Linked DNA regions of Homo sapiens. The protein of the gene in region 1 interacts with the protein of each later gene in a pairwise test. Each region holds a gene or a part of one and is shown on either strand. Other genes may lie near its edges.

The links. The genes of interacting proteins can lie anywhere in the genome.
Region 2: the proteins of FCHO1 (region 1) and EXOSC5 interact in binary tests that used the Homo sapiens proteins (3 or more experiments, as listed by UniProt).

The regions. Positions count from the first base shown.
Region 1 is NC_000019.10:17,782,477-17,785,768, forward strand, and holds part of FCHO1 (F-BAR domain only protein 1), read left to right. Parts: intron 1-432; exon of another isoform or gene 433-540; coding exon 541-696; intron 697-1,626; coding exon 1,627-1,759; intron 1,760-2,248; coding exon 2,249-2,448; intron 2,449-3,292. UniProt on the Homo sapiens protein: Functions in an early step of clathrin-mediated endocytosis. Has both a membrane binding/bending activity and the ability to recruit proteins essential to the formation of functional clathrin-coated pits.
Region 2 is NC_000019.10:41,390,860-41,394,359, forward strand, and holds part of EXOSC5 (exosome complex component RRP46), read right to left. Parts: intron 2,122-3,500; coding exon 2,008-2,121; intron 1,104-2,007; coding exon 982-1,103; intron 1-981. UniProt on the Homo sapiens protein: Non-catalytic component of the RNA exosome complex which has 3'->5' exoribonuclease activity and participates in a multitude of cellular RNA processing and degradation events.

The DNA.
Region 1 (3,292 bases):
GATAGACATGAGCCACTGTGCCCAGCCATAGGAGAGCATTTAAGCAGGGCTATGCATTGCTGTAGACGCCAAGGCTGCCGTGGGCATTAAGATGAAGGGAGTAATACTAGAAGTTAGGCCCAGTAAGTGGGTAAGGGCGTGGGTTAGGGACAAGCGGAGTGCAGGGATATATATTGGGGTGGCCTTCAGCAGAAAAGATCTGAAAGTCAAACCATGAAGAAGAGGAGAGTGTCAGATCAAAAACCCAAGCAAAGGATAGCTAAAAAACTGAACATTTTAATTTGAGCTTCCTGGTGGCCTAGGAGAAAAGAGAACTAGGGATGGAGATGTTCCTGCCTCCTTCAGCCCAGGGTGGATTCTTCCTGTCCAGGCAGGAATGAAAGAGGAGGTTGGGGGAAAGGATACGGGGGATCATCAGGGCCATCCTCCTAGATCCGAGGAGTCTGGGGAGCCACAGGCACCAGTGAAACCAAGAGAAGGGGAAGGATGAGGCACCAGGCAGAGCCCTAAGCCAACACCCAGTCCCCTCATCCTCCCTAGCTGCCTGGCTCGAGTAACTGGGGAGCTGACCATGACCTTCCCTGCTGGCATCGTGCGTGTGTTCAGCGGGACCCCACCACCACCTGTCCTCAGCTTCCGGCTTGTACACACAACCGCTATTGAGCACTTCCAGCCCAACGCCGATCTGCTGTTCAGGTACTATGGAGGGGCAGTGGGAGAGGGCCTCGGAGGCTGCTGGGGATCAGGCTTCCGGACTCTGAGTTCCCTCTCTGCTTCCTGGGATTTTTTCTTTTCTTTTTTTTTTGTAGAGACGGAGTCTTGCTCTGTCGCCCAGGCTGGAGTGCAATGGCGTCATCTCGGCTCACTGCAACTCCGCCTCCCGGGTTCAAGCAATTCTCCTGCCTCAGCCTCCCAAGTAGCTGGGATTACAGGCACGTGCCACTACACCCAGCTAATTTCTTTCGTATTTTAGTAGAGACAGGGTTTCATCATGTTGCCCAGGCTGGTCTCAAACTCCTGAGCTCAGGCAATCCGCCCGCCTTGGCCTCCCAAAGTGCTAGGATTACAGGCGTGAGCTACCACACCCGGCTTGATTTTTTTTTTTTAATTATTATTTTTTTGAGATGGAGTTTTGCTCTTGTTGCCCAGGCTGGAGTGCAGTGGCGTGATCTCGGCTCACTGCAAGCTCCGCCTTCCGGATTCAAGTGATTCTCTTGCCTCAGCCACCTGAGTAGCTGGGATTACAGGCATGTGCCACCATGCCTGGCTGATTTTTGTATTTTTAGTAGAGATGGGGTTGCACCATGTTGGTCAAGCTGGTCTTAAACTCCTGACCTCAGGTGATCCACCCGTCTCAGCCTCCCAAAGTGCTGGGATTACAAGCATGAGCCACCACACCCAGCCACCTCCTGGGATTTGCTGTGTGGCGTGGGGCAAGTAACTTGCCCTCTCTGACCCTTGTTTTCCATCCCTCCTTTACTGCCCGCACCACAACCACCCAGGTAGGGCTTTGCTGGGCCCAGGGTGGGCCAGGAAATTGCATCTTTAGGAAGGGGTAGATTGAATGCTGGGAGCCCTGGGAGGGCATGTCCCGAGGATTGGGGTGATCAGTCCGGGTCTCTGCAGTGACCCCTCCCAGAGTGACCCTGAGACCAAAGACTTCTGGCTCAACATGGCAGCTCTGACCGAAGCCCTGCAGCGCCAGGCAGAGCAGAACCCCACTGCCTCCTACTACAACGTGGTGCTGCTGCGATACCAGGTGCGCCACCCGCATGGGGCCGGGAGGAGGTGGTGGAGTGGGGGACACGGTGAGCCGGCAGCAGACATGGAGGCGCCTGCGTGTTGGCCAGGCTGGTCTCGAATTCCTGACCTCAAGAGATCCAATCTGTGAGAGCCGATGAGCTGGAGGGAGTAGGCAGTGTGGGTCGGGAATGAACGGTGGAGGAGTAGGCAGTGTGGAAGAGCGTGCATCCCCTGTTGCAGATAGTATGTTTATGTGAACTAGAAGCAGCCCAGCCCCGGAACCTTACACTTGAACTTCCCTGGGAGACTTTGTTAGAATGAGGCGCTCTCCTGCCCCCTGCTGGAAACCTGGTGTAATACAGCCTCTCATCCATCAAATCTCCCTGTGACTGGACCCCCTTGGGGCGGTGCGTGCATCGCAGGGTCAAGGTGGTTGAATAGCGCATGGTGTGGCAAGACAGGATGGCCCAAGCTGTGTCCTCTCTCTCATTCTCATTCTTCCTAGTTCTCCCGCCCGGGTCCCCAGTCTGTGCCTCTGCAGCTCAGTGCCCACTGGCAGTGTGGAGCCACCCTCACCCAGGTCTCAGTGGAGTACGGCTACCGGCCCGGTGCCACGGCTGTGCCCACACCACTCACGAACGTCCAGATCCTGCTGCCTGTGGGGGAGCCTGTGACCAACGTCCGCTTGCAGCCGGCTGCCACCTGGTGAGGGCTTGCGGGAGGCCAAGGAAAACTCAGCAGTTTCCCCCATAACCCCAGACCTTCTCCCTGATGCATTGATTAAAGGGTGCACCCTCGGCCTGACCGTTAACTGTGAGCCCACCCTGCTTAGCACTAAGGGTGATGTTATGAGTGCCAGGTGCAGTGGCTCATGCCTGTAATTGCAGTGCTTTGGGAGGCTGAGGTGGGAGGATCACTTAAGGCCAGGAGTTTGAGACCAGCCTGGGCAATATGGTGAGATCTCATCTCTACAAAAAATATTTTGTTTATTTATTTATTTATTTAATTTATTTACTTTGAGATGAAGTCTCGCTCTGTCGTGCAGGTTGGAGTGCAGTGGCACGATCTCAGCTCACTGCAATCTCCGCCTCCCGGGTTCAAGCGATTTTCTCTGCCTCAGCCTCCCGGATAGCTGGGATTACAGGTGCCTGCTACCACACCCAGCTGATTTTTGTGTTTTTTTAGTAGACATGAGGTTTCACCATGTTGGTCAGGCTTGTCTCGAACTGCTGACCTCAGGTGATCCACCCGCCTCGGCCTCCCAAAGGACTGCGATTATAGGCATGAACCACTGCACCCAGCCTTACAAAAAAATATTTTAAAAAGTAGTCAGGCCGGGTGCGGTGGCTCACACCTGCAATCCCAGCACTTTGGGAGGCCGAGATGGGCAGATCACGAGGTCAGGAGATCGAGACCATCCTGGTTAATATGGTGAAACCCCGTCTCTACTAAAAATACAAAAAAAAAATCCGGGCATGGTGGCGGGTGCCTGTAGTCCCAGCTACTTGGGAGGCTGAGGTGGGAGAATGGCGTGAACCCGGGAGGTGGA
Region 2 (3,500 bases), about 24 Mb from region 1:
ATACCTTCTCTCTCTGCCCATCCATAAAATGTCTGTCCAGTTCAGGGCCACGTTCCAGTAAAGCCTTCTACAGTGTCTAATTCTAGTCCTCAACCTCAACCTCTCGCACCTCAGACATGGAGATCTTACAAGGCCACGCTCCTGACTCAGCTGCTGTCTGCTCAGGGCGCCCCCAGCACTGAGGGCCTGAAATCCACTGAGGTGCCGAGTAGAAGTGATTGCCAGCCGGGCACAGTAGCTCATGCCTGTAACCCCAGCACTTTGGGAGGCCAAGGTGGACTGATCACTCGAGGTCAGGAGTTCGAGACCAGCCTGGCCAACACAGCAAAACCCCGTCTCTACTAAAAATACAAAAATTAGCCTGGCGTGGTGGCAGGCACCTGTAATTCCACCTGTAATTCAGGAGGCTAAAGCATGGGAATCGCTTGAGCCCGGGAGGTAGAGGTTGCAGTAAGCTGACATTGCACCACTGCATCCAGCCTGGGTGACAGAGTGAGAGCCTGTCTCAAAAACAAACAAAAAAACCCAAAAAACAAAAGAAGTGATTGGCACAGGCTCTGGAGTCAGACTGGCCTGGGCTTGAGTCCTGCCTGTGCTGCCTTCCAGCTGTGTGACCTTGGGCAAGCCCCTTCCCCTCTCTGGGCCTCAGTTTTGTCACCTGAAACATGCGAACATAAGAACACTCATCTGCCAGGGTCCGTGGGCTCTAGAACTAGACGGTCTGGGTCTAAGTCTTGGCTCTGCCACTTCCACGGGGATCATAAGGGCATGTGCTATATTACATGAGTTAATGTGCATAAGGCACACAGAACAGTGCCTGGCACATAAGTAAGCACCCAGGCTGTTTGCTCTCCTTCTTCAGTGAGCTGGTACCTGTCAAGTGTTTGAAGGCTTTCTGGCTAGCAGTGAGGGTATATGTATCCGCCAGGAGGGAAGCAATCAGGAGACTTCCTGGAGGAGGAGGCCTGGCAGAAAGGATACAGAGCCGGCATCGCTGACAACCTGCAGCACCACGGTGATGGAGGTGCGGGGGTGCAACGTGCCCAGCACCACCGCCTCGCACGTGTTCCTGATCAGCCGCTCCCGGCTCTTCTCTGCAACACCTGGGGAAATTGAAGAGAGGTTCAGGGTCTTCCCCTTCATTTGACTCACCTTCCTCCATACGCCTCACCCAAATTCCCAGAAAGGGCTCACGGTCTCAGCCTGGGATGGTGCAGTTACCTGCAGGGATGATGGAAGATTCCAGTGGGAAGAAGGCAAGGCCTGACTGCCATCCACTGACCCCTGCTACCTCCAGCATCCACCAAGGGAACCATCCAAGGGAAGAAGACCTGGGAGTTCCATGTCTGTGCTGCTACCCACGCCCACTCCCACCCTAGCAGGTCCAGTCAGTGGGGACTGAGGGATATGAGGGTAAAAGGGTGGAAAAACAGGTTAATGGTCCAGGCACAGTGGCTCGCGCCTGTAATCCCAACACTTTGGGGGGCTGAGGCGGGCGGATCACTTGAGGTCAGGAGATCAAGACCATCCTGGCCAACATGGTGAAACCCCATCTCTACTAAAAAAATACAAAAAATTAGTGGGCATGGTGGCACGTGCCTGTAATCCCAGCGACTCGGGAGGCTGAGCCAGGGGAATTGCTTGAATCTGGGAGGCAGAGGTTGCAGTGAGCTGAGATCGTGCCACTGCACTCCAGCCGGGGTGACAGAGCGAGACACTGTCTCCAAAAAAAAAATAAATAAATAAAAATAAATAAAAGAAAAACAGGTTAATGGAATGAATGAGAGTGGAGGCAGAGAGAGGGAGAAAAGAGGGAGGGAGAAATTAGAGGCAGAGAGAGAAGCAACAGAAGATGAGTTATTAATTAGAGGCGGAGAGTTAAAGACAGAAACAGCTGAGTGGAGACCCAAGCGGGGAGTGGAGACTCGGGGCAGCTGGTAGGGAGGAGCTGGGGGGGTGATTTTGACAAACTGGGCACCACTCAGAGGTTCAGCAGGGCCCAATTACCAGGCAGCCCAATCTTCGGCCTCAGGATCACTTCGAGTGTGGCCTTGTTGAAAATCTCTTTGCTGACCTTCACCTCGGCCGGCCCGTACACACCCGCCAGGACAGAGGTGTCACCTGAGGAGACAGCAGGGAGGGCCTCACTCACAGCTTCCCTGCTCCTGGGGCCCCATTTGTGGCACTGAGCCTGACGGCCAGGGCTCCCCACGTCACCCCCGCCATTTGTTGGTACTGATTCTTTGAGCACTCACTTCATTTCTCTCATTTGTAAAATGGGGAAAATAGCAGTCCCTCCCCGCTAGCGTCTTGTGAGGATCAAAGGACACAATTCACAGAAAACACTTAGAACACTGCGGGGCTCACGCTGAATGTGCAACAGACTTTAGCTGTATTAGTAACATTCGTCCATTCAGGCATTCAGGCAGGGTCTCACTCTCATTGCCCAGGCTGGAGTGCAGTGGTGCCATCACGGCTCATTGCAGCCTTGACCTTCTGGGCTCAAGTGATCCTCCCGCCTCAGCCTCCCAAGTAGCTGGAACTACAGGCATGTGCCACCATGCCTGACTAATTTTTATATTTTTAGTAGAGAGGGGATTTTGCCATGTTGCTCAGGCGGGTTTCGAACTCCTGGGCAACTGTAATCCCAAGGTGCTAGGATTACAGGCGTGAGCTACCACGCCTGGCCCTGATATTAGTAATTTTTTTTTTTTTAATGAGATGGAGTCTTGCTCTGTCGCCCAGGCTGGAGTGCAGTGGCGTAATCTCGGCTCACCGCAACCTCTGCCTCCCGGGTTCAAGCAGTTCTCCTGCCTCAGCCTACTGAGTAGCTGGGATTACAGGCGCGCGCCACCACACCTGGCTAATTTTTTTATTTTTAGTAGAGACTGGGTTTCACCATGTTGGTCAGGCTGGTCTCGAACTTCCTGACCTCATGATCTGCCCGCCTCCCAAAGCGCTGGGATTACAGGCGTGAGCCACTGTGCCCGGCTGGTATTAGTAACTTTTAACAGGAAGTTCTTCCTGAAAGCTAACCATCCTCCCTCTTACTGCAGCTGCTCTCAACTTCTCTTTCCAAAGCTTCCCCAGCCCAGCTCTTCCCTTAGGCACTGGCCCCCAAATTTTGCATCAGTCTGGACACCTGAGAAAGGGATAATATCTGGAATGAATCCTGATTCCTTATTTCCCCAGAAGCTATGAACGGGGTACAGGAGGTAAAACCTAAGAAATAAACAGCCTGGCTTCTAGTACTGTCTGCTGTAATCCCAGCACTTTGGGAGGCTGAGGTGGGTGGATCACCTGAGGTCAGGAGTTTGAGACCATCCTAGTCAACATGGTGAAACCCTATCTCTACTAAAGATACAAAAATTAGCTGGGCATAGTGGTGGGTGCCTGTAATCTCAGCTACTTGGGAGGCCGACGCAGGAGAATTGCTGGAACCGGGGAGGCGGAGGTTGCAGTGAGCCGAGATCACACCATTGCACTCCAGCCTGGACAAT